Linked DNA regions of Homo sapiens: region 1 is linked to region 2. The links come from fine-mapping of genetic effects on gene expression. A gene starts in region 2. The other region holds a variant in brackets. All regions are shown on one strand. Distances are from middle to middle. Region 1 has its middle 16 kb from the start of GSTP1. Region 2 holds the start of NUDT8 (nudix hydrolase 8).

Evidence for each region. PIP is the estimated chance that this variant, and not a neighbour inherited with it, causes the effect.
Region 1: its variant is the best candidate, but not a certain one, in a credible set for the expression of NUDT8 in prefrontal cortex (GTEx, PIP 0.89).

Annotation. Positions count from the first base shown.
Region 1 is chr11:67,561,628-67,574,454 of GRCh38, reverse strand. No RefSeq gene overlaps it. Among named protein-coding and RNA genes, the nearest start is that of GSTP1, 16 kb to the left of the region's middle. RefSeq lists an enhancer at 10,272-11,471. The variant C/T (reference allele first, on the strand shown) is at 4,702.
Region 2 is chr11:67,619,576-67,633,622 of GRCh38, reverse strand. It overlaps NUDT8 (nudix hydrolase 8), which reads left to right and starts at 3,686. Exons shown (of 4, transcript NM_001243750.2): 1 at 3,686-3,905; 2 at 4,572-4,704; 3 at 5,223-5,300; 4 at 5,372-5,685. The coding sequence starts at 3,712. The coding sequence ends at 5,677. TBX10 (T-box transcription factor 10) reads left to right here. Exons shown (of 8, transcript NM_005995.5): 5 at 520-675; 6 at 953-1,020; 7 at 1,211-1,305; 8 at 1,729-2,320. The coding sequence ends at 2,018. It overlaps LOC124902696 (a long non-coding RNA gene), which reads right to left and starts at 13,684. Exons shown (of 2, transcript XR_007062741.1): 1 at 13,087-13,684; 2 at 6,230-7,569. RefSeq lists enhancers at 1-69, 70-599, 1,128-1,657, 7,481-8,010, 11,267-11,848 and 2 more and silencers at 2,764-2,933, 3,054-3,843, 4,134-4,283, 4,851-5,145.

The sequences.
Region 1 (12,827 bases), 59 kb after region 2:
AGAGCCAGACTCTGTCTCTTAAAAAAAAAAAAAATGGAGGGGTGTATATAAAAATCACAACCGGCCAGACGCGGTGGCTCATGTCTGTAATCCCAGCACTTTGGGAGGCTGAGGCAGGCAGATCACCTGAGGTCAGGAATTCGAGATCAGCCTGGCCAACATGGTGAAACCCCATCTCTACTAAAAGTGCAAAAATTAGCCAGGTGTCGTGGTGGACACCTGTAGTCCCCGCTACTCAGGAGGCTGAGGCAGGAGAATCGCTTGAACCAGGGAAGCAGAGGTGGCAGTGAGCTGAGATCGTACCACTGCACTGCACTCCAGCCTGGGCGACAGAGCAAAACTCTACCTCAAAAACAAAAAAAGAATCACAACCAAAGAATTTGTATGTCAGAATGACAACAAAAACCTATTCTATCAGGGAATCAACTAAAAACATCAGGAAGAAAATTAAAACCCAGTCCTTCTTTAGAGACTTGTGGCCAGGAAATAATTCAAGATTTAGTCAAAATTGTAGGAAAACAATAAAATCTCAAAAACAATGGTCAGGGCTGGAATCTAATAACAGATGTGCCACAGTTTGCTTTTTAAAGATTGATTCTCTCTCACTCTCCAGTTCTGCATTTCTATCAAAAGAAATCTTAGTAGGGCTGATTTTGTTGCCAAATAAGTTTTAGTATTATACTTGGCCTGATTATTTGTAAAAAGTGCAATGAGAATAGTGAATGGCCATACAGGCTCTTTTAAATTGGCTTTGCTGGAGCTTTTTCATGAAGAATCTCAGGTTGGACTTTTGAAAGCCTCCCCAGGCTTTGAAGCCAACCCATGGATTCATGATCAGCCTGTGCCTGTAGTACCTGTATGAATTGGGTGAATTCCTCTCTTCTCAAGGTCCCAAATATCTTGAGGTTCCTGGGCTTGTCAGAAAGTGACATTCTTTCCTTACCACAATGTAGGGTCCAGCCCTACAGGGCCTATGGGTTTTTCTCTTCGTGTGCGGAGACGAGAGATTGTAGAAATAAAGACACAAGACAAGGAGATAGAAGAAAAGACAGCTGGGCCTGGGGGACCACTACCACCAAGACGCGAAGGCCCAAATGCCTGGCCGCGCTGATAATTATTGTATACAAGGCAAGAGGGCAGGGTAAGGAGCGTGAGTCATCTCCAATGTAAAGTCCAATGTAAGGGTAAGGTCACGCGAGTCATGTGTCCACCGAACGGGGCCATTCCCTGTTTGGTAGCCGAGGCGGAGAGAGAGAGGGGACAGCTTACGTCATTATTTCTTCTATGCATTTCTCGGAAAGATCAAAGACTTTAATACTTTCACTAATTCTGCTACTGCTATCTAGAAGGCGGGGCCAGGTGCACAGAGCGGAACATGAAAGTGGACCAGGATCGTGACCACTGAAGCACAGCATCACAGGGAGACATTTAGGCCTCCGGATGGCTGCGGGCAGGCCTGGCTGATGGCAGGCCTTCCACAGGAGGTGGTGAAGCAGAGTGTTCTCTAACTCCCTGGGGGAAAGGGAGACTCCCTTTCCCAGTCTGCTAAGTAACAGGTGCCTTCCCAGGCACTGGCGTTACTGCTAGACCAAGGAGCCCTCTAGTGGCCCTTGTGCGGGCTTGACAGAGGGCTCACATTCTTGCCTTCTGGTCACTTCTCACCGTGTCCCTTCAGCTCCTAATTCTGTATGGCCTGGTTTTCCTTAGGTAATAAGTATAGAACAGGTAATAATTATAGAACAGAGATTAATATAATAAAGAGTAATGCTACAAACTAATGATTGATAATATTCATATATAATCATGTCTATATTCTATTTCTAGTATAACTATTCTTATTCTAATTATTTTCTTTATTATGCTGGAAGAGCTCATGCCTTCCGTCTCTTGCCTCGGCACGTGGGTGGCTTGCCGCCCACACCACAAGGTCAGGAAGCTTGTAAGGGAACCATAAAAACCAGGTACCAGACCAATCTCTCCAAGGGACTTTTTACTGGCTCTATAAAATCAGCCTCAACTCCTCAAAACAGTCTGGCTGTATCTGAAAATATGCCAGTACAGTCAAAGCCTTGGTAAAATTACGAGTGTCTTCAGTGTGCCCAGTTACAAAAGAAAACATAGTCTTACTGAACTTATGCAAATAACTGTATTGCAATAAAATAAGAATCGTCACAAATAGTGTCCAAATTTTGGAGAAATCAGGTAGAGAGAAAGGTAAATATTTCAATTTTGCTCACAAAAGTATACTTTGCCCAATGGCTGTGAGTTATAAATAGCTCAAAAGAAAAAGTTTTCTTGTTTCTAGAAAACAAAATATAAAAAGAATCAGCAACGTTTCAAACAAACAAAAGTCATAAAAATCATTTTAGTCCCCTATCGGTTCTGTCCTACGTAATTAATTCTCGTTCTGCTTGATGTTGTGTTCACAATCTTCATGAATGCATCAGTTCTTTATTAGGGTTCTGGAAGTTTTTACTTAGTTCAGTGGTATGATCTCTAAAGTTACCAGAGCAGGGTGCGGTAGCTCGTGACTGTGGTCCCAGTGTTACCAGATGGAAAGTCTTGACTGTGAGTTGTCCAGGTTCTTGGCGTGTTGAACAAAGAACTGAACAAAATGCACAAAGCAACAGAAGATGAAAGCATAGATGTATTAAAGCAAAAGTACGCTCCACAGAGTGGGAGCAGGCTCAAGCAGCCCCAATTACAATATGCTTCAGGGTTTTTATTAAGCCAAAAGAATTTGGTAACACCATAGGTGCCCTGCAGAGGCTTCCAATTGGTTACACCCTGTAAGCGATTGGCCCGTGACCAATCAGAGGCTGAAGTGCAGACCCTGCCTGTGGTCAATCGGAGGCAGAAGTGGAGACTCCTGTCTTGTTATCACAGGAGTGAGGACGTGGCCTGCGTGCTGCCTAATCTTGCCTAGAACTGGCTGCCCCTGCTGTTTTTTGCTTATGCCTTAACCCTTTGTTACCCTAATTCCCTGTTCTCCTATCTTACCAGCACTTTGGAAGGACAAGGCAAAAGGATCACCTGAGGTCAGGAGTTTGAGACCAGCCTGAGTGACACAGAAAGACTGTACAAAAAATTTAAAAATTAGCCAAGCGTGATGGTGCATGCCTGTAGTCCCAGCTACTCGGGAGGCTAGGGTAGGAGGATTGCTGGAGCCCAGGAGGTTGAGGCTGCAGTGAGACATGTTCACACCACTGCAGTCCAGCCTGGGTGACAGAGTGAGACCCTGTCTCAAAAAACATACACAAGCAAACAAATATTTAATTAATAAATAAATTTACTGGAAACCTATACTCAAGAGTACTTTTCAGCATCGTTTTCTGTGAATTTCCTTAAGAAGCAAATTTTGGACTGTAGCTGATTATAAACTAATTTTTGAGAATCAAAGTAAAACAATAATTGTCTGTGGATGACAAAAAACTTAGACTAGCCATGGTTAAAGATGCAACTGACAAGGAAACTTGGTTATTTCTGTGACATACAAAAATTTAACAACATTATCACTGAAAACATATACCGAGACATGTCATTTTAAGAATCTCATACAATTTTGGAACACATATTAATAACACATTTATAGAAATATAACTCAAAGAAAGTTAAACACCAGCTGGGCGTGGTGGCTTATGCCTGTAATCCCAGCACTTTGGGAGGCCAAGGCGAGTGGATCACGAGGTCTGGTGTTCGAGACCAGCCTGATTAACATGGCAAAACCCCATCTCTACTAAAAATACAAAAATTAGCTGGGTGTGATGGGGTGCGCCTGTAATCCAGCTACTCAGAAGGCTGAGGCAGGAGAATTGCTTGAACCTGGGAGGTGGAGGTTGCAGTGAGCCGAGATTGTGCCACTGCACTCCAGTCTGGGCGACAGAACGAGACTCCATCTCAAAAAAAAGAAAGTTAAACACCATTTCTTATTTGACAATGCTCCGTATATGATTTTAACATACCAAATAAGCCCAGTATTTCTCTCTTGGACTTCCAAGGGCTCCTATTTCTTGTGTCCAAGATAGTTCAGATAAAAAAAGACTTAATTAACTTTGGGAAATATGTCAAAAATTTTTCTAAATTTGAAATTTAAATTAGGTGCCCAGGTGTGGTGGCTCACCCCTGTAATCCCTGCACCTTGGGAGGCTGAGGCGGGTGGATCACTTGAGGTCAGGAGTTCAAAACCAGCCTGGCCAACATGGTGAAACCCCGCCTCTACCAAAAATACAAAAATTAGCCAGCCATGTTGGTGTGCACCTGTAGTCCCAGCTACCAAGAGGCTGAAACAGGAGAATCATTTGAACCCAGGAGGCAGAAGTAGCAGTGAGCTGAGATCACGCCACTGCACTCCAGCCTGGGCAACAGAGTGAAACAACTGTCTCAAAAAAAACAAAAATTTTGAAATTTAATTTTTGGAAGTATGTCAAATATTAAAGGTTCAAAACACTTGATATTAAAATAAGTAAGGTTTGGCCGGGCACAGTGGCTCACGCCTGTAATCCCAGCATTTTGGGAGGCCGAGGCGGGCGGATCACGACGTCTGGAGATCGAGACCATCCTGGCTAACACGGTGAAACCCCATCTCTACTAAAAATACAAAAAAATTAGCCGGGCGTGGTGGCGGGCGCCTGTAGTCCCAGCTACTCAGGAGGCTGAGGCAGGAGAATGGCGTGAATCTGGGAGGTGGAGCTTGTGGTGAGC[C/T]GAGATCGCGCCACTGCACTCCAGCCTGGGCAACAAGAGCAAGACTCCATCTCAAAAAAAAATTAAATAAATAAATAAAATAAGTAAGGTTTAAAACACATAATCAAAATAGGATACAGGTTACTATAAAATAAAAGTCATTAATTTAGGCCAGGTGCAGTAGCTCATGCCTGTGATTCTAGCACTTTGGGAGGCAAGGCAGAAGGATCACTTGAGCCTAGGAGTTTGAGAACAGCCTGGGCAACATAGTGTGACTCTGATTCTATAAAAACAAAAAAGTCAAATATTAGCCAGCCTTGCTAATATTTAAAATTTTTTTTAAATAGAGACAGGGTCACACTATGTTGCCCAGGCTAATATTATTAGCTAATCGGGAGGCTGAGGCAGAAGGATCCCTGGAGCCCAGGAGCTTGAGGCTGCAGTGAGCTATGATCTTGCCACTGCACTCCAGCCTGGTGACAAAGTGAGCCCCCATCTCTAAGAAAAAATATTTTTTTTTTTGAGACGGAGTCTTACTCTGTCACCCAGGATAGAGTGCAGTGGTGCGATCTTGGCTCACTGCAACCTCCACCTCCCGGGTTCAAGTGATTCTCCTGCCTCAGCTTGCCTGTAATTCCTGAGTAGCTGGGATTACAGGCATGCACCACCATGCCCAGCTAATTTTTGTGGAGACCAGGTTTCACCATGTTGGTCAGGCTGGTCTTGAACTCCTGACCTCAAGTGATCCACCTGCCTCGTCCTCCCAAAGTTCTGGGATTACAGGCGTGAGCCACTATGCCTGGCCTCTAAGAAAATTTTTTTAAAAAGTTATTAATTTAGCCAAAATGATAACTCAAAGATTTCAAAAAGCAAAAAACTTTACTCTTGGATTAGAGAGGAGACTCAGTTTCCTAAACAATTTAAATACCCAATAAAGATAGCCTGAGGCAAACTCTCCCACTCATTTTTTTTTTTTTTTGCAGTTTATTCAAAAGGTAAACAAATCTTTCACTATCTCTTTTTTTTTTTTTTTGAGATGGATTCTTGCTCTGTCAGCCAAGATAGAGTGCAGTGGTGTGATCCCGGCTCACTGCAACATCCGCCTCCCAGGTTCAAGAGATTCTCCTGCCTCAGCCTCCCGAGTAACTGGGATTACAGGTACCCGCCACCACGCCCGGCTAATTTTTGTATTTTTAGTAGAGATGGGGTTTCACCATGTTAGTCATGCTGGTCTCGAGCTCCTGACCTCGTGATCCGCCAGCCTCGGCCTCCCTAAGTGCTGGGATTATAGGCATGAGCCACCGCGCCCGGCCTAGTATCTCTTATTAATACAACGCTAAATTCTTGTTCAAAGGAGAAAACCAAATTTTACCTTATACTAATGTATTATCAATATGAAAGCCAATTTTAATAAAATATTACAAACAAATTCAACCAATCTCAGTCAGCTTTGACCACACAAGGTAAGATTTCCATAAATCTTTCTTTACCTCTTGGGATTTTCTATTAAAGAGCAGGTCACTGCTGAGCGAAAACCCTGTTGTTCCGACACAGGCTCAGCCTCTGGCCTTGCATCAGTGCTTTTGATATTAATGCTCGCTTTTTAGAAAAACTTATAAATAATTCCCTTCCAATTTTAACCAACTTGATCACACACAAAATTTCTCTCATGAGATTAATCTCCTGTAAATCTACGACTTGCTTAAACCTTCAGTTTTATCCTATACTCCCTTTTTTATGTTAGCATTCAATCTTAGAACAAAAATTTACCTTACTTTCCCCCTTGTCAGTTTTTGGTTTTTCTGTTTGAGATGGAGTCTCGCTGTGTCTCCCAGGCTGGAGTGCAGTGGCACAATCTCGGCTCACGGCAACCTCCACCTCCTGGGTTCAAGCGATTCTCATGCCTCCACCTCCTGAGTAGCTGGGATTACAGGTGTGTGCCACCATGCCCAGCTCATTTTTGTATTTTTAGTAGAGACAGTGTTTCACCATGTTTGCCAGGCTGGTCTCGAACTCCTGACCTCAAGTGACCCACTCGCTTTGGCCTCCCAAAGTGCTGGGATTACAAGCGTGAGCCACCATGCTCGACCTATTTTCCCCCTTGTCAGTTTAACCACACAGAGTTTTCTCATGCAAAAGAAAAGCATATTCCCTCTTTTCAACTTATTTACCAAAAACACATTTTTTTTTCTAGACCAGTTCTCACTCTGTCACCCAGGCTGGAGTGCAGTGACATGATCATAGCTCACTGCAGCCTCAAACTCCTGGGCTCAAGCAATCCTCCTGCCTCAGCCTTCCAACCAAAAACATGTCTTACTTTCTGTATACACTCTATAGATAGAATTGTTTCTGTTATAGTTAGTATTTTTACTTACATATATTAACTAAAATTTTAAGTCTTTTTTTTTTAATGGAGTCTCGCTTTGTCACCAGACTGGAGTGCAGTGGTGCAACCTCCATTCACTGCAACCTCTGCCTCCCAGGTTCAAGCAATTCCCCTGCCTCAGCCTCCCAAGTAGCTGGGACTACAGGCATGCGCCACCATGCCCGGCTAATTTTTTTGCGTATTTTAGTAGAGATGGGGTTTCACCATGTTGGCCAGGATGGTCTCGATCTCCTGACCTCGTGATCCACCCACCTCGGCCTCCCAAAGTGCTGGGATTACAGACGTGAGCCACTGCACCCTGCCAAATTTTAACTCTTAGTAATCCTAATTTGCAGTGAAAAACCTAGGAAGTATGTCATTTTAAACTGTTTCTTTCTGTTTGTTTGTTTTTGAGACGGAGTCTTGCTCTGTCGCCCAGGCTGGAGTGCAATGGCGTGATCTCAGCTCACCACAACCTCTGCCTCCCAGGTTCAAGCGATTCTCCTGACTCAGCCTCCTGACTAGCTGGGATTACAGGCGCCCACCACCATGCCTGGCTAATTTTTGTATGTTTTTAGTAGAGACGGGGTTTCACCATGTTGGCCAGGCTGGTCTCGAACTCCTGATCCGAGTGATCCACCCGCCTCGGCCTCCCAAAATGCTAGGATTACAGGTGTGAGCCACCGTGCCCGGCCTTAAACTGTTTTATACCGGTATTTGTAGATGAAAACCATTTCATAATATTTTTAGAAAAATGTTTTATTGGTTTTTTGTTTATTAACAGATCTAAATATATTTAGTTTTTCTATACCATATAAACAACTCAGACATTTTATGATGATGAATTACTTAATATGTCGTTAACATAACGGCATTAAGTTTCTGCAAAAGATGTTTGAAACTATGAAAAGTTCCTTTTTAAACTTTTACCCCATTGACATTTATTTAATTTATTCATTCTCAACAATTATGCTTGAATATTTCAATAAACAAAGCTCACCATCCTCCTAAGTTCTTTCTTTCTTAATCATTTTTATAGCCTTCAAATGTTAGGCAGTCATCACCTAAGAGCTCTGTTGAATGTTGGCATTCAACTTTCGAACATAAATTTACTTTACTTTCCCCCTTGTCAGTTTTTGGTTTTTTGTTTGAGAAGGAGTCTCGCTCCATCTCCCAGGCTGGAGTGCAGTGGCGCAATCTCAGCTTACATACATGGGTATTTTGCTGATCAGAAGACAGAGCTGGTTTTTTGGTTTGTTTTGTTTTTTGTTTTCTTATTCTCTCTGAGAGCTGTTTTTATTAAGCCAACTATCTTATTATAGCTGCAAATGGGTTCCAATCCACATTTCTGTCCAGCCACATTCCAGGATCTCACCTTTTTGAGACAGGATCTTTTTGTGTCATCCAGGCTGGAGTGCAGTGGCATGATCATGGCTCACTGAAGCCTCAGTCTCCTGGGCTCAAGCTATCCTCCTACCTCAGCCTCCTGAGTAACTGGAATTACAGGTGCACACCACTGTGCCTGGCTAATTTTTTTTTTTTTTTTTTGGTAGGGACACAATCTCGCTATGTTGCCCAGACTGGTCTTAAACTCCTGGGTTCAAGTGATCCTCTAGCCTCGGCCCCCTAAAGTCCTGGGTTTATAGGCATGAGCCACCATGCCCAGCCAAGCCAACAATATTGAACTAGTCTTATTTACCAAAAATGTACCCAAGTCATGTGAACTAAAAGATTTTTGAGTTAGTTTCTGTTTTCCTGATGAAACATTTGATTAAAACACTTTCTTTTACCGTAAGCTAATTAATTGGAGCTCTTTCATATATTTTGGCGGTGAAATATCACAAACACATGACATATAAAAATATATAGACGTGGTCGGGTGCGGTGGCTCATGCCTGTAATTCCAGCACTTTGCGAGGCCGAGGCGGGCTGATCACAAGGTCAGGAGTTCGAGACCAGCCTGGCCAATATGGTGAAACACCATCTCTACTAAAAATACAAAAATTAGCCAGGCGTGGTGGCACACATATGTAGTCCCAGCTACTCAGGAGGCTGAGGCAGAAGAATCAATTCAACCCGGGAGGCAGAGGTTGCAGTGAGCCGAGATCGCTCCAGCCTGGACGACAGAGTGAGACTCTGTCTCAAAAAGAAAAATCTATATATCTATATATAGATATAGAGGTGTAAAGACACACAGAAGAAGCAGAGTTTTTGATTTTGGTTTTGGGGTTTTTTGTTTTTTGTTTTCGGTTTTTTGTTTGTTTGTTTGTTTGTTTGTTTGTTTGTTTTTGAGATAGAGTCTTGCTCTGTCACCCAGGCTAGAGTGTAGTGGTGCAATCTTGGCTCACTGCAACCTCTGCCTCCCCAGGGTTCAAGTAATTCTCCTGCCTCAGCCTCCTGAGTAACTGGGATTACAGGCGTGCACCACCGTGCCTGGCTAATTGTTTTTTTTTGTTGTTGTTGTTGTTGTTTTGAGATGGAGGTTTGCTCTTATTGCCCAGGCTGGAGTGCAATGGCATGATCTTGCCTCACCGCAACCTCCACATCCCAGGTTCAAGTGATTCTCCTGCCTCAGCCTCCCAAGTATCTGGGATTACAGGCACCCACCATCATGCCTGGATAATTTTTGTATTTTTAGTAGAGACGGGGTTTCACCATGTTGGCCAGGCTGGTTTCGAACTCCTGACCTCAGATGATCCATCTGCCTTGGCCTCCCAAAATGCTGGGATCACAGGCATGAGCCACCGTGCCCGGTCTTAGCTTGTTTCTTGATCACATAACTGACTTCAGGGTGAAGCTTATTAAAGAGCTTCACCCTGAAGCAAAGAAAGCATTCTCCATGCCTGGACTCAGCATGGATAGCTCTGAAAAAGAAGAAAGGCTACTTTACCTGAAGGCCTATCATTTATGAACATTTAATTCACCTTAAAAAAAAAAAGTTCCTTTTCAAGTGACTCACCAAAACCAGTAACCCTTAACCAAGGTTATGACTTAGCCAAGAACACACAAGACATCTCCAAAGAAGTGCAAAGTGATCCTCACGAGATCCAGAACCACCCTAAAGACAGCTCAAAGAAGGAAAAGTCTCACTGTTACTGGAAAGGGGTCCCGATCGAGACCCAGGAGAGGGTTCTTGGATCTCACGCAGGAAATAATTCAGGGTGAGTCCATAGAGTAAAGTGAAAGCAAATTTGTTAAAAAAGTAAAGGAATAAAAGAATGGCTACTCCATAGACAGAGCAGCCCCGAGAGCTGCTAGTTGCCCATTTTTATGGTTATTTCTTGATGATATGCTAAACAAGGGGTGGATTATTCATGCCTCCTCTTTTTAGACCATATGGGGTAACTTCCTGACGTTGCCATGGCATTTATAAACTGTCACGGTGCTGATGGGAGTGTAGCAGTGAGGACGACCAGAGGTCACTCTCGCCGCCATCTTCGTTTTGGTGGGGTTTGGCCGGCTTCTTTACTGCAAACTGTTTTATCAGCAAGGTCTTTATGACCTGTATCTTGTGCCAACCTCCTATCTCATCCTGTGACTCAGAATTCCGTAACCGTCTGGGAATGCAGCCCAGTAGGTCATTCAAGATGGAATTGCTCTGGTTCAAATGCCTCTGACATCACAAGCTGCAAATGGAGCGTGACCCACATTTCTGTCCAGCCATATTCCAGGATGTCACCTTCTCAGCCGACCACCTATGCATAAAGGCTCAAAATCCCCATATGCCCCACAGATGGGAAAAAACAGGAAATCGGAAGCTGCCCATGGGAAGGACGAGGACCAATAACAAATGGCTACCCAAAAGGTGAAGAGTCACTCCAATAATTTAAAACAAACAAGACTGGTTCCCTGACCAGGAGTCCAACCCGGGCTGCCGCTGTGAATGCCCGGAATCATAGCCACCAGATCCCATTGCTTTGTGAGGCCTGCAGCAGAAGCAAAGCAGGCAGTTTGAACATGTAAAGGATTTTAACTTGTTTCAGATCTGATCTCAACTAGAACATGGCTTAGCCAATTCCCTGGAAGTTAACATTTCAAATACCTGGTAAGATTTACATCTCCAAGGGACTGTGAAGTCCAGCAGGGCTTTTAAAGGGTATTGTCCGATATTGGGTCAATAAATCATCAGTGTCATTCATTCATCCTTGTTTAGAGAAAAAAAAATGTTGGATCTGTATTTTATAATGTTAGTAAGTCATTCTCATTGTGAAGTGGTTCCATTTGTTTCCTTTGTTCCAAATTTAGACACATTCCCCCCTTTGGAGAGAAGGAAATGTGTGTATTGTGGAATTCCAAAAATCTCTGCCTGAGAGATGTATGGGAGCCGAGGGAACTAGCAGAGAGAGGTGAGTTCAGATCGCAGGGGAGAGGACGAAGGGGCAGCTGGAGGAGAAAGAGAAAAAGCCTCCGAAGTCTTTCTTAATTTAGAACTAGTTTCAAATATCCTTTTGTTTACCTCTTGAATGGAGGCAATTTTTTCTCTCAGAATGTCTTTTAGAAGCTTCTAGGTGCTATTGGAAGTAAGTCGCTCATTCCATTTGTTTAGTTCTTTTTTTTGGAGACAGAGTCTCGTGCTGGAGTACAGTGGTGTGATCTTGGCTCACTGCAACCTCTGCCTCGCGGGTTCAAGCAATTCTCCTGCCTCAGCTTCCTAAGTAGCTGGGATTACAGGCGACTGCCACCACGCCCGGCTAATTTTTGTATTTTTAGTAGAGATGGGGTTTTGCCATGTTGGCCAGGCTGGCCTCAAACTCCTGACCTTAAGTGATCCGCCCGCCTCTGCCTCCCAAAGTGCTGGGATTACAGGCGTGAGCCACCACGCCCGGCCCCATTTGTCTGCTCCTAAAACCAGCTTTTTCCAGTTGTGCATGCAGATGAACTCATGTAGGCATTTCAAAGTCCTCCATTTTGGCCATTATAAGCTGGGTCATCACAAGTTATGCATGACCAGTTTTCTAAATATTTGCATGAAGAGGCGCGCCACAGTGTTAAACACAAATCCAGCCTATGTTTTCATGTGGATCTTGCCTTCAGGAGGAACACTCAGTTTTAGACCATTGAACCGAGCCTCAGAACCTGGCCAGTTTGAAAGATTACAGATTTGACACTGAAGCCACAAAGATTTCACTTTCTCTTTTCGGAGAGAAACTATTTTCTCCCTGATCAAAATTTGAAATGAGAAAAAAGGTTGCAAATTCTAATGAGTAAGACAAACAAAATCTTAACCTCGGAGAAAACTGAAAATTATGAATATGTGATCAGCAGAGTCTCTAGAGAATAACAGATGAAACTCCCACCTCTCAGTAGAGTTTTGACTCCAACCCCACCGAGTAAAGAATATGTGTAGCTTGAAGCAAGTCTGAATTCACAACCAAACCTGGGAGGAATTCGGCCCTGAGAGGGGCCTTATTAGAAATCCTTGCTGGCTTGGGCAAAGTAAAGTGAGTAAGTTGCTCATGCTGGTACCAAGGCTCTGGTTGCTGGGGAAGCGGTGGGATCGCTGGAGGCTCCCTTCAGGTTCCATCTGGGGTGCAAAATGTCGACTTTAAATAACAAGATTCAGGCCAGCACAATGGCTCACGCCTGTAATCCCAGCACTTTGGGAGGCCAGGGCAGGTGGATCACAAGGTCAGAAGTTCAAGACCAGCCTGGCCAAGATGATGAAACCCCGTTTCTACTAAAAGTACAAAAATTAGCTAGGTGAGGTGGCAGGAGCCTGTAATCCCAGCTACTCGGGAGGCTGAGGCAGGAGAATCGCTTGAACCTGGGAGGCAGAGGTTGC
Region 2 (14,047 bases):
GAATCCTGGGCCGGCAGAATTGCAAGACGCATCCATGGGGCCGGAGTGGAGCCAGGAGGGGAAGCCAAGGAGGCGAATGCCTGAGGGGTCGGGCTGACTTCGGGGGGCTCTGGCTTTTACCGTGTGGGGTGGAAGTCGCTGGACGGTTAGGAGCAGGGGGCATATGATGTGGCTTCCCGGGCAGCTGTGTGGAGAAGGAACAGAGGGGTAAGGCGGGGACAGGGGACAGGCCAGGAGGCAACCGAGGAAACTGGTGAACGCGACAGTGACGGGCCAGCACACAGGCAGTGGGTGGCAGCTGGGATGTGGGGTGTGAGAGGACATGGAGGCAAGGATCCATGATCCAAAGGGGCCTTTGACACGGAACTGCAGCCTCTCCAGCTCAGACCCTGTGCTGCCATGAAAGGAACAGGGTGGCAGGCCCAGGGCAGTCTCCCGGCTTGGAGGGAAGGACTCCAGCCTCAGGGAGTCCGCTGTACTCCGCCTCACCCCTGTACCCCTGCTCTGTCCCTTCCACAGATCATTCTCAACTCTATGCACCGCTACCAGCCCCGTTTCCACGTGGTCTTCGTGGACCCACGCAAGGACAGTGAGCGCTATGCCCAGGAGAACTTCAAGTCCTTCATCTTCACAGAGACCCAGTTCACAGCAGTGACAGCCTATCAGAACCACAGGGTGGGTGAACCAGCTCGGGAGCACCCGCTGCAGGCCCATTTCACAGGGGTGGAGACTGAGCCCTGAGGCTTGCAGCCCTCACTGGCACAGACTACTGCCCTCCCAACTTGCCCTGAGTATCTGCCATCAGTCAAGGCCCTGCCCGCACTCCTATCAGCTCAGAGTTCCTGGGCCAAGAGGCCCAGGTGCCAGGGCCTCCTGACTGCCGGTTCCCGGGAGGACAAGGTGGCTGAGCCTGGCTCATGGCCAGCCCACAACTGCACTTTGTCTCCTGCAGATCACCCAGCTGAAAATCGCCAGCAACCCTTTTGCCAAAGGCTTTAGAGAGAGTGACCTGGACTCCTGGTACTGTCTGACCCTGACCCTAGCCCCTCACCCCCACCCCAGGCATATCCTAAGGCCTCAGTTCCTGACCCTTGTTTCAGGGTCACACCCTCTGACCCATCCTGGGGCCCCACCATCTGAAGCTGGCCATGATCCCTGGCCTGGGTTCTTCCCCTTGATCCCCTCCCCCCATTCTCGCTTGCTCTTTCAGGCCTGTGGCCCCACGGCCCCTGCTCAGTGTCCCAGCCCGGAGTCACAGCAGCCTCAGTCCCTGTGTGCTGAAGGGTGCCACAGACAGGGAGAAAGGTAAGGCCCCAGGCCTGCAGACATAGTGGGACTAAGGTGTACACAGTGGGCGGAAGGCAAAGGGACAGGACCTCCAGGAAGGGGCTTCAGCAGCTCAGCGAACCCACAGGGCCCCTGTGTGGACACACGGAGGGGGAAGCAGACATGCCTAAGACAATATGGGGCTCAGGGCAAAGAGCACAGGCAGGGGGTGCCAGGCAGGCTTCCTGCAGGAGGTGGCTCTCAAGCTGGGCCTTGGAGGACTGGGAAGGGTTTGGACAGAGGGAGAAGGTGAAGAAGAAATTCCAGGCAGAGGGAAAAGCAAAGGCGAAGGCTGAGAGGTAGGTAACTTGGGAAGGAGGAGCAGGAAGGGACCAGGGCAGGCCTGGGATGAGGGATGAGGATGCGATGGGAGGCCCAGAGTCCACTCATTTCCTCCCTCAGACCCCAACAAAGCTTCAGCTTCCACCTCCAAGACCCCTGCTTGGCTCCATCATCAGCTGCTGCCCCCACCTGAGGTCCTGCTGGCCCCGGCCACCTACAGGCCTGTCACGTATCAGAGCCTGTACTCTGGAGCCCCGAGCCACCTAGGGATCCCAAGGACCCGACCAGCACCATACCCCCTCCCCAACATCCGGGCTGATAGGGATCAAGGAGGCCTGCCTCTCCCAGCTGGGCTGGGGCTCCTGTCCCCCACTGTGGTGTGCCTGGGGCCTGGCCAGGACTCCCAGTGATGCCAGAAGCCCTGGGGGGAAGCCCTGCTACCCTGGACCTTACACCGGGTGTGGGAATCAGCCTCTGCCCCGCCCCCTCCAGCCCCATCTCTGTCTCAAGGAGAGCAGGGTAGGTGAAAGTCTAGAGAAAGAGGCTACCTGCCCAGGGTCACAGCAAGGCTGGGACCATGGCAAGCTTGGAACCAGGACTTCTATCTCCCAACCCCAGCAGCCTGAATACTGTGCCCTCTTGCTTTGGGGGTAACTCCCGAAAACCCTGCCTTACCTCTCCCTTCCCCCTAACATTAAACTATTTGGCATGAGTGGTCAGAGCACTTCTGTCGTCGTGGTCAGGGTGGGTGGGGGCCTCAGGAACTCCCAGACCCATCATAGTCCCCACATCAGCCCTGTAGGCATCCCGAAGCTCTGCCCAGTGCCGTCCGCATCCCTGGGAGCACACAGTAATATTAAAAGTGGTGACTCCAGCCCAGTGGCAGGGCTGCACTTGCCCAGATGAGGATCGAAACTGGCGCTCAGAGAGGCGCGGGACCTGCTCAACGTCACACAGCAGAGCATGGCGGACACCCGCCACCCCACGTTTAAATGCTGTGCGCAAGGCTGGGGTCATCTGGTCCCCAAGCCCAGGGTCTGGTGGAAGGGCGCAGAACCACGGTGGTCAGTGACCACAGGGGCCGAGGTAGGAAAGGGGGAGGGATTTGGGAATCCGGTCAAGACTCAAGGCAGGAAGGGAGAAGAGCTCTGGACGCTGGGACAAGGAGGTCAAAGGCCTGGGGCTGGAGTCCGACGGAGCCAGAGGGGAAGACAAGACTGGGGGCGGCGCGCGCCACCCAGCGGTATCGGGAGGGAGGACCGGAGGGAGGGCTGGGCCGGACGCTCCTCTCGCGCACCGATCGACCTCGGGTTCCTGGAGGGGCGTCCCCGTGGGATCCCGGCTCCGTACATCCTGGAGCCCCTAGGGGAGGGACGGACCAGTGGGGGCCGGCGGGGCCTCATCAGACACCCCAACGCCAGGACCCAACGGGACCGAGGACGGTCGCCGGGCGCTTCACGGTTCGCGTGGTTTCAGGATCTCGGAGAACACAACCGGCAGGTCCTGCAGCTCCGCGCCCATCTCCCTCCCCGCGGCCACACCCCCGGCCACGGCCCGGCCCTGCCGGAAGCACAGTCCTCCTGGCCACGCCCCCCAGTCCTTCGTAGCAAAAGCTCCGGTCCAGGCCCCGCCCCCAGCCCGCCCCAACCTCGATTGCCTACTAGGCCCCGCCGCCCTTTGGCAGTAACGTCCGAGTCCGGCTCCCGCGCAGGCCCCGCCCCGCCCCGCCCCGCCGCCCTCCGTCCCTCCCATCCGGGGGACTCAACGCGTCCCACCGAGGCCCCGCCTTCAAACAGGCCCCGCCCCCTAACGGACCCCGTCCCACCGAGGACCCGCCTTCAAACAGGCCCCGCCCCCGAACAGACCCAGTCCCACCGAGGCCCCGTCTCCGGGAAGGCCCCGCCCACGAACAGACCCACCCCACTGAGGCCCCCCGACGCCGCTGCCGCTCTGCAGCCCCCCAGGCGGGACGCGTCGCGCGGGCTGCCCCTTCTCCCTCTCAGCTTTCGGAGGGACCCGGGCTGAGCGCCCCGCCCCGCCTCGCCCCGCCTCTTCCCTCGCCCGATCCCGCGCCCTCAGTGTCCCGGCCGCGCAGGACTTGACATGCTGCCCGACTGCCTGTCGGCCGAGGGCGAGCTGCGCTGCCGCCGGCTGCTGGCAGGGGCCACGGCCCGGCTCCGCGCGCGGCCCGCGTCGGCCGCGGTGCTCGTGCCGCTCTGCTCAGTGCGTGGGGTCCCGGCGCTGCTGTACACGCTGCGGTCCAGCCGCCTGACCGGGAGGCACAAGGGCGACGTCAGGTACAGCGGCCGGGAACTCCTCGCCCTTTGCCGGAGGCTACAGGAGCCCGGGGCTGGCAGGGACCTCTGGCAGGGCACTTAGCCCCTTCGAGCCTCGGTTTCCGCCTCCGTAAAATGGGTCTGGGGAGAGTCCCTCCGCCCAAGGGCTGCAGCGAGAGGTCAGCGATCCGTGTCCGTCGGCCCCGGTGCACCTGCCGGGGCGCCACGTCCTCGCCGCGTGGGCCCCTCGTACGCGTCCTTGCGCGCACGCCTGGGCCGGGACACCCCTTTGAGCTGTTTCCCGCTTAGAGGGCGGACGCCGCCCCCTGCCGGCGACTACGGAGAGGTTCGGGCCCCGCCCGGCGGGAATTAAGAACATCCTGAGGACAATGTCAGTGTTGCTGGGGCCACCATAGGCCGAATTTGGGTATCTGAGCCCCAGGATCTTCTTGCCCCTGCTGCAGACCCTCTTATCCTGCGCTGTCCCGGGCCTCTCTTCCTTATCCCCATTGCTCAGGGAGGTAAACTGGCCTCCAGAGGTCGCATGGCTTGCCTGGGGCCTCCCAGTAAACTAGGGGCAGAGGCAGGCGACACTTCGGTGGGCCAGTGGCCCCCCCCGCACTGCCGATACCCCGACCTCTCCGTGGCCCCAAGAGTCCAAGGACCAGACTCCTTGTGTCTGTTTAGTTTCCCAGGCGGCAAGTGCGACCCGGCTGACCAAGATGTGGTGCACACGGCCCTGCGGGAAACCCGGGAGGAGCTGGGCCTGGCAGTGCCCGAGGAGCACGTGTGGGGCCTGCTGCGGCCTGTGTATGATCCGGTAAGCCACTTGGCTGAGGCCACCCCACCCCATTCACTCACTCTGTGCCTGCCCTGGAGCTGGGCTACCAGGGACCAGGAGAGTGGTCATGGACCCCCACGGGCACAAAGTGTGGAAGGGTGCCCCTAACCTGCCTGGTCACATGCACCACCCCACACACCCCCTCGGGAAGGGATTGGGGAGGCTCTGGTGTCCTGAGTAGAGGTGGCCCAGGGCGATGGGGTGGGCCAGCTCCACTCAGTTTGGTGGATTAGGGTCAGGGAAGCTTCATGGGGTAGGCAGGGATTGAACCCAGGCTTGAATGCCAAGTGGGAGATTGTCCTAAGCAGAGGGAACAGGTCTAGTGCATTTGAGGGGACCTGAGTCAGTCAGCATGGCTGGAGGACACAGGCAGGTGGACCCGAACATGACTACCAAAGGCCTATGCATGGCAAAGGGGTCTTCCTCTCACACTCCCCTCCCCAGCCTTCAAACCCAGCGAAGGCCATGCTTCCCTGACCACCTGCCCTCTTCCCCAGCAAAAGGCCACCGTGGTGCCAGTGCTTGCTGGTGTAGGCCCACTGGATCCCCAGAGCCTCAGGCCCAACTCGGAGGAGGTGAGCTGGGGGATATGAGGGGGTTGGGCTGTTCCAGTCCTCTGTCTACCCTCTCTGCCTCCTGCCTGCAGGTAGATGAGGTGTTTGCACTGCCGCTGGCCCACCTGCTGCAGACGCAGAATCAGGGCTATACCCACTTCTGCCGGGGTGGCCACTTCCGCTACACACTACCCGTCTTCCTGCATGGACCACACCGGGTCTGGGGCCTCACAGCTGTCATCACTGAGTTTGCCCTGCAGCTGCTGGCACCTGGTACCTACCAGCCCCGCCTGGCCGGCCTGACCTGCTCAGGGGCTGAGGGTCTGGCCCGCCCTAAGCAGCCCCTGGCTTCACCCTGTCAGGCCAGCTCCACTCCAGGACTGAATAAAGGTCTTTGACAGCTCTAGAGCTCTTGCTTCTGCTGTACTGGGGCCTTGACCTTGGGCAGACCACTCCAGGTCGCTGGCTGGGGCTCCTCCTTCCAGTCACGCCATGCCCCACAGCAATGGACACTTCCTGGGTGCCAAGTACTTGGAGTCAATTCATCTCACCCTCACAACAGCCCATAAGGCAGGGCCAACACTGTCTCTGGCTGGTGAGACTGCTTTCAGGGAGGAGAGACACCTTGCCTAAGGGCCCCACGCTGGGATTGGAACCAGAGCTCTCAGACTCCACAGCCCAGACTCTTAGGCACTGCACTGCCCTGTCTCAGCCTGCACCTCCTGTTCTCTCTGCTGTGCCTGGCTGACGCTGTGCTGGGCTCCGGGATCCCAGAGAGGAGTAAGGCGCACCCATGCCCCTGGGTGTTACTGCAGGAGTCTAACATGCAGAGCCCCTGTGTGTGCCAGCTGCTGTGTGGGGGCCACAGCTGTGGACCGGTCAGATGCTCACCTGCCGTCCAGAGGGGGTGCTCAGTCTAGGGGAGACCTCAGACCAGGTCACACAGATAATCATGTGGTTCCACATTAATTAATCACAGATAATAGTGGAATTATATAAGACATCAACTAGGTAGACCAGGGTTCTGTGAAAGAGCTGAGGGAGCGGGTGGTCTGAGCTTGCCGTGGAGGATGGCTGGATCCAGGGGCTCGGGCTCCCCTCTTGCTGTGCTTTGCGCTGTGCTGGCCTCAGCCCCAAGGAGGTTGTCTGTAGTGCAGAGCGTGAGAGGTTGAGGAGAGGGCAGCAGCATCCATCAACAGAAAACACGGCCGCTCCTTCCCGGCCAGTCTAACCTAGAATTGCACTTCACTGGCCTGCCTTGAGTCACATGTCCTTCCCTGAGCCTGTCACATGGCCGGTTGTGTGTCCGGAATTGGTGGGTTCTTGGTCTCACTGACTTCAAGAATGAAGCCATGGACCCTCACAGTGAGTGTTACAGCTCTTAAGGTGGTGCGTCTGGAGTTTGTTTCTTCTGATGTTCGGATGTGTTTGGAGTTTCTTCCTTCTGGTGAGTTCGTGGTCTCGCTGGCTCAGGAGTGAAGCTACAGACCTTTGTGGTGAGTGTTACAGCTCATAAAAGCAGTGTGGACCCAAAGAGTGAGCAGTAGCAAGATGTATTGCAAAGAGCGAAAGAACAAAGCTTCCACAGTGTGGAAGGGGACCTGAGCGGGTTGCCACTGCTGGCTCGGGCAGCCTGCTTTTATTCTCTTATCTGGCCCCACCCACATCCTGCTGATTGGTAGAGCCGAGTGGTTTGACAGGGCACTGATTGGTGCGTTTACAATCCCTGAGCTAGACACAAAGGTTCTCCACATCCCCACCAGGTTAGTTAGATACAGAGTGTTGACACAAAGGTTCTCCAAGGCCCCACCAGAGTAGCTAGATACAGAGTGTCCATTGGTGCATTCACAAACCCTGAGCTAGACACAGGGTGCTGATTGGTGTATTTACAATCCCTGAGCTAGACATAAAGGTTCTCCAAGGACCCATCAGAGTAGCTAGATACAGAGCTGAAGGGCTCCTCAAGTGCTGCCAAAGTGGGAGCCCAGGCAGAGGAGGTGCCGAGAGTGAGCGAGCGAGTGAGGGCTGTGAGGACTGCCAGCATGCTGTCTCCCCTCAATCAACAGGACACCCCAACTGCTGTTGGGAATTTGGCCGATGACTGCTCTAGCTACTTCCTGCTGGATAGGGGCGAAGAAGGGGCTTTGCAGTTGTAGTGTCCTTCAGAGGGGAACTCTCTAGGCCAGGGGAAGTGCCAGCTGGTCAGTCCAGGGGTCCTCGGTAGAAGTTGTTAGTTGAACTCATTTGGGGTTCCATTTGTAAGACCATCTGTAGCTTGATGGCCTCGATTCTAGAGGAAACAAATTTGACAAGAAGGTTAAAAATACAGGGCCCAAAGGCGAGTAACAGCAAGATGGCTGCCACGGGACCTAGAAAGGGGAGAAGCCATGTTGCCCAACTCCAGAGGTTGGTATAAGAATTTGAAAGGCGTCTGATTTCAGAAGCCTTTTCCTGTAAACGCTGGGTGGCATCTCATGCTATCCCTGACTGGTTAGTGTAAAAACAACACTCTTCCCCTAAGAAGGTGCAGAGTCCTCCTTTTTCAGCAGTGAGGAGATCTAGGCCTCAGCGGTTTTGGAGAGTCACTGCTGCCAAAGAGTCTATTTGGGATTGTAAAGTAAGGATAGATTTCATTATTTCTTCCAACTTTGAGAGGCAGATATGGGTTGAAGATCCACATAAGAGAATATGCCTTGGCTGGGTAGAGAGAAATTTACCCTGGCTTTTAAAGGAATAGGTACACTGTTTTTTCTTTACTACTTCCATCTCTCTCTTTGACTTCTTCTTTGTCTCTTCCTCTCTTTTTTACCCTCTCTTTGACTTTCTGTGTCTGTCCCTCTTTCTCTCTAACTTCTTGTCTCTTCCTCTCTGTCTCTTTCTTTGACTTCCTGTCTCTTTCCTTTCTGCTGCCTCTGCCAGCTGCTTATGCTGCTGTTCTCCCCTCTCCTTCCTATTCTGATGGCTTTGTCAGTGTAAGATTCCCACCTCTTTGTGTTTTTGCATTGCGTGCAATAACTCTATAATTTCCTTGTGGTATTTAATGGGGGTTCCTACAGAGGTTAGGAACTCCCTCTCTTTCCATATTGCAGCATGGGCATGTAGGATTAGATAAGCATACTTGCTATCTGTATACACATTTATTCTTTTTCCCTTTCCCAGTTCTAAGGCCCGGGTAAGTGCCACTAGTTCCGCTAACTGGGCACTGGTCCCTGGGGGAAGAGGCTTGCTTTCAAGTATGGTTACATCACTAACCTTCGTATCCCATTCTCCACAAATGAACTTCCATCAGTATATAGGTTAAGGTCAGGATTAGTTAAGGGGACTTCTAAGAGATCATCTCGGGCGGCATAAGTCTGGACTATAATTTGTTGGCAGTCATGCTTGATTGGTTCCCCATCCTCTGGGAGAAAAGTGGCAGGGTTGAGGGCCATGCATGTGCATATTTGAAGCACTGGTCCCTCAAGGAGTAGTGCCTGGTATCTAAGTAGGCAGTTGTCTGATAGCCATAAACTTCCTTTGGCACCTAGTATGCCATTTACATCATAAGTAGTCTAGACAGTGAGATCCTTTCCTTGTATTATTTTGATAGCCTCTGATGCTAAGACGGCCACTGCTGCAACTACCCTTAAACAGTGAGGCCAGCCTTTTGCTACTACATCAATTTCCTTACTTAGGTATGCCACTGGTTGTGGGGTTGTCCCATGAGTTTGAGTGAGGACTCCAAGAGCTATCCCGGCTCTCTCTCTGACATATAAAGAGAAATTCTGTCCTGTGGGAAGGCTTAAAGCTGGAGCTTGTACTAGAGCCTGCTTTAAGGTTTTGAAGGCTGTTTCTGCCTCTGGTTCCCACTCAACTAGATGAGTATTTGCCCTCTGGGTTTCCTTGATTAGAGGGGCCTGGCTGTCTCGCTGTATCCAGGGATCCATAGTCGGCAAAAGCTGGTAATTCCAAGGAACTCCCTCAACTGTTTTAATGTCTTAGGGCGAGGATAAGCCAGTATAGGCTGTATTCACTCCTTGCTGAGGGCCCTGGTCCCTTTGGCTAAGATTAGGCCTAGATATTTAACCTGCTGTAGGCAAAGCTGGGCCTTCGACATAGACACCTTGTACCCTTGATTAGCTAGAAAGTTCAAGAGATCTAGAGTAGCCTGCTGGCACAAGGCTTCCTAACTGGTAGCCAAAAGTAAATCATCCACATATTGAAGGACCAGAGTGCCTGGACTTGAGAAGTGGCCTAGATCTTTGGCTAGGGCCTGACCAAACAGATGAGGGCTATCCCTAAACCCTTGGGGCAAGACCATCCATGTAAGTTGGGATGTGTGGTTTGTGGGATCCTCAAAAGCAAAGAGGAACTGTGAATCAGAGTGCAGGGGAACACAGAAGAAGGCATCCTTGAGGTCCAGAACTGTGAACCATTCTGCTTCCTCTGGTATTTGAGAGAGCAGGGTATAGGGTTTGGGTACAACTGGATATAGTGAAATTACTGCCTCATTAATGAGTCTAAGATCTTGCACTAGTCTCGGTCTTTGTACTTCCAGAATTGGGGTGTTGCAGGGACTGCTGCATTTCCTTACTAAGCCTTGAGCTTTCAAATGTTTAACAATATTCTGTAATCCTTTATGAGCTTCAGGCCTTAAGGGATATTGCCTTTGATAAGGAAAAGTGGTGGGATCTTTTAACCTGATTTGGACTGGGTGGGCATTTTTTGCCCTTCCAAATTGTCCTTCCAATGCCCAGACTTCAGGGTTGATTCCCTCCTCAAGTAGGGGACAACAAATGGGTAACTTGTTCCCCATATTCATGTAGATAATAGCTCCAGCCTTGGCTAATATATCCCTCCCTAATAAGGGTGTGGGACTTTCAGGCATAACAAGAAAGGCATGTGAAAAGAGCAAAGTCTCCCAATTACAACTGAGGAGGTGGGAGAAATACCTGGTTACAGGCTGTCCCAGGATTCCTTGGATGGTAATGGACCTTGAGGAGAGTCGTCCAGGACAGGAGATTAACACTGAGAAGGCCGCGCCAGTGTCCAGGAGGAAGTCAATTTCCTGGCCCTCAATAGTTAAACATACCCGGGGCTCAGTGAGGGTGATGACATGAGCTGGCGCTTGCCCCAGGCACCCTCAGTCCTGTTGTTGGATCGTCTGGCTGGGGGCTTCTGACCCAGGGAACCTTCATCCTCTGGGGCAGTGCACCTTCCAGTGATTGCCTCAGCATAGTGGACACGGACGAGGGGGCAGCTTGTTTCTCATTGGACAATCTTTTTTAAAGTGTCCCAGTAAACCACACTGATAACAAGCCTTACCAGGTGATTGGCCTGCTTCATGTTCTGTCCTCTCTGAACCACCAAGGTTTGTTTGTCTGAGGGCCATGACTAAGGCTGCGGCCTTTCTCTGATCTCGCTTTTCCTTTTGGACCTGTTCCTCTTGGTCCCTATTATAGAACACCGAGGTTGCCAGGTTTAATAATGTCTCTAGATTTTGTTCAGGGCCCAGGGCTTGCTTTTGGAGCTTTCTCCTGATATCTGCAGCTGATTGGGTAATAAACTTATCTTTTAGAATCAATTGACCCTCAAGTGATTTGGGTGACAGGGGAGTATATTTTCTTAAGGCCTCTCATAGCCGCTCGAGGAAGGCAGAAGGATTTTCTTCCTTTCCCTGAGTTATGGTGGACATCACTGAATAATTCATGGGCTTTTTTCTAATTCTCCTTAGTCCTTCTAGAACACAGGTCAACAGATGTTTACAACTCCAGTCCCCATGATCTGAGTCAAGGTCCCAGTTGGGATCCATACTGGGGATGGCTTGCTGACCGGTAGGGAATTTGTCCCTTTCTACGGCTGTCATTCTATCATTTACTTGACTAAGATACCAGGTATCTCCAAACTCTCGGGCTGCAGCTAAAGCCGCATTCTTTTCATTAAAGGCCAGGGTTTGATCTAACAGTAGCATGACATCTCTCCAAGTGAGGTCAAAGGTTTGCCCTAGACCCTGTAGGACATCTATGTACCTATCAGGATCATCTGAAAACTTCCCCAGGTCTGCCTTGATCTGCTTTAAATCAGAGAGGGAGAAGGGGACATGTACCCGGGTTGGGCCAAATTCCCCTCCCCCTACAACTTGAAGGGGACACAACTGACAGCCCGGGGGGGTTTGTGGTCCTTTGGAGACCTCTTTGCTTATTTCCTTCTGGGCAGGGGAGATTAGAGGAGGATTATCATTAATAGGAAGGGGAGCTATAGGGAGGCTGGGATATGGGGGTAAGCCGAGAGGTCCTCCTTTGGGATGTAAATGGCAAGCTTTGCATAGTTGTGTATTCTCCCTCAATGAAAAGAAAGCTTGGGCATAAGGTATTTCACTCCATTTGCCTTCCCTCTTACAGAAAAGATCAAGCTGCAGGATGGTATTGTAATTTGTACTTCCCGCAGGTGGCCATTTTTCCCCATCAGAAAGAGAATATTGGGGCCAAGCCGCAGTGCAGAAAAAAATGAGCCGCCTCTTTTTCAGGGTTTGTGGGTCAAATTGGTCCCAATGGCTTAGGATGCATTTCAAGGGTGAGCCTGTTGATGCCTGAGTGTTTCCCATCTGAAAGACAAAACCACCCACGGTTTTGGTTTGTTTTGTTTCTCCCCCTGCCCAAGAACCCGCAACAGTCCCTGGACCCTGTTGATCGGAATAGTTGCGCTCACTGACGCAGCAGCAGAAACAACCCCTGCCCAAGAACCCGCAACGGTCCCTGGACCCTGCTGATCGGAATAGTTGCGCTTACCGACGCGGCAGCAGAAACACTAGTTTTCCTCCCAGACCACATGGAGGACCGAGGAAGGTCGGATTTAGTGGTCCTTGCCGACGCATTCTCGAAAACCTGCACCCTTGCCTGTCCTCCTAGACCACAAGGAGGACCGACCGAGAAAAATCGGATTTAGTGGCCCTTACCGACGCATTCTCAAAAACCTGTTAGAGTCCTAAGCATTCTCCTGTTAGTATTGGGACTTTACCCCTGTCCTATAAAGATGTTATGCCCCAAAAATGAAGTGGAGGGCCATACCCTGAAGGAGGGAAGGGGTCTCCAGGGTTGGAAGAGTGACATCTTTTGTCCTAACTTATATGAATAGGAAGGATACAATTTCTGAGGCTCCCCATATCCTAGCTTCAGGAATAGCTTTTGTTAGGCCTGTCAGTGTGAGGAGGGATCCTAAAATTCCAGGTAGTCCCCACTACGATGGGGCTTTGGGCAAAAATTATGTCTTTCTGATTGGTGAGCCCAGGTGCCTAAAGAAGGTAACAGAGTCCTGGAGTTTATACTAGAAATCATTCTTATCGGAGAAACTAGAAAAGCACCAGAGACAGGTAGCAATTTTTAGAAGTGGGTCTAACCTCAGAGAAGGGAGGCAAGAGGAAGTTTGTCTGGCAGGCATTAGGACCCAGGGGGCTAGGGTCAGGATAGATAGGATAGATGGGCGGGTCTCGCTTGGGCGACATGCTTTTGAGAGTTCTGCTCATGGCCGCGGGGTCAACCATCATGTTGTCAGGACCCCAGAGCTGCATGGCCTTCCTCTCTGTCGACCCTCGGCTCAGCCCAGAAGTACAGGAAAAGCGGAAGCTGGTTCTAGGCAAACCAACGGTCCCAACTCCGAAGAGTCGGGGGTTGTTAGAGAGCTCTTTCCCAGAAAGTCTGACACCCATGTCTTTAGTCCAGCGGCCACGCTAGTCACTTTTAACTGGCCGACAGGTGCCTGGTATTTAGCCCCCGAATTCTAAGGAAAGATAGGACAGAATAGCAAGCGAAAGGGGTCCAATGGTACTCACTGCTTGGCGATAGGCAATGGTCTCACCGCTCGGCAATAGGTGATGGTCTCACTGCTCAGCGATTGTCTCACCGCTTGGCAATAGGCGAAAGTCCCTTCATGGTCGCCAAAATGTGTCCGGAATTGGTGGGTTCTTGGTCTCTCACTGACTTCAAGAATGAAGCCGTGGACCCTCGCGGTGAGTGTTACAGCTCTTAAGGTGGCGCATCTGGAGTTTGTTCCTTCTAATGTTCAGATGTGTTTGGAGTTTCTTCCTTCTGGTGGGTTCGTGGTCTCGCTGGCTTAGGAGTGAAACTGCAGACCTTCGCGGTGAGTGTTACAGCTCTTAAGGCGGCGCGCCTGGAGTTGTTCATTGCGCGCCTGGAGTTGTTCGTTCCTCCCAGTGGGCTTGTGGTCTCGCTGGCTTCAGGAGTGAAGCTGCAGACCTTTGCGGTGAGTGTTATAGCTCATAAAAGCAGTGTGGACCCAAAGAGTGAACAGTAGCAAGATTTATTGCAAAGAGTGAAAGAACAAAGCTTCCACAGTGTGGAAGGGGACCCAAGCGGGTTGCCACTGCTGGCTTGGGCAGCCTGCTTTTATTCTCTTATCTGGCCCCACCCACGTCCTGCTGATTGGTAGAGACAAGTGGTTTGTTTTGACAGGGCGCTGATTGGTGCGTTTACAATCCCTGAGCTAGACACAAAGGTTCTCCAAGTCCCCACCAGATTAGTTAGATACAGAGTGTCGACACAACGGTTCTCCAAGTCCCCACCAGGGTAGCTAGATACAGAGTGTCCGTTGGTGCATTCACAAACCCTGAGCTAGACACAGGGTGCTGATTGGTGTATTTACAAACCTTGAGTTAGATACAGAGTGCCGATTGGTGTATTTACAATCCCTGAGCTAGACATAAAGGTTCTCCAAGGCCCCACCAGAGTAGCTAGATACAGATTGTCCACTGGTGCATTCACAAACCCTGAGCT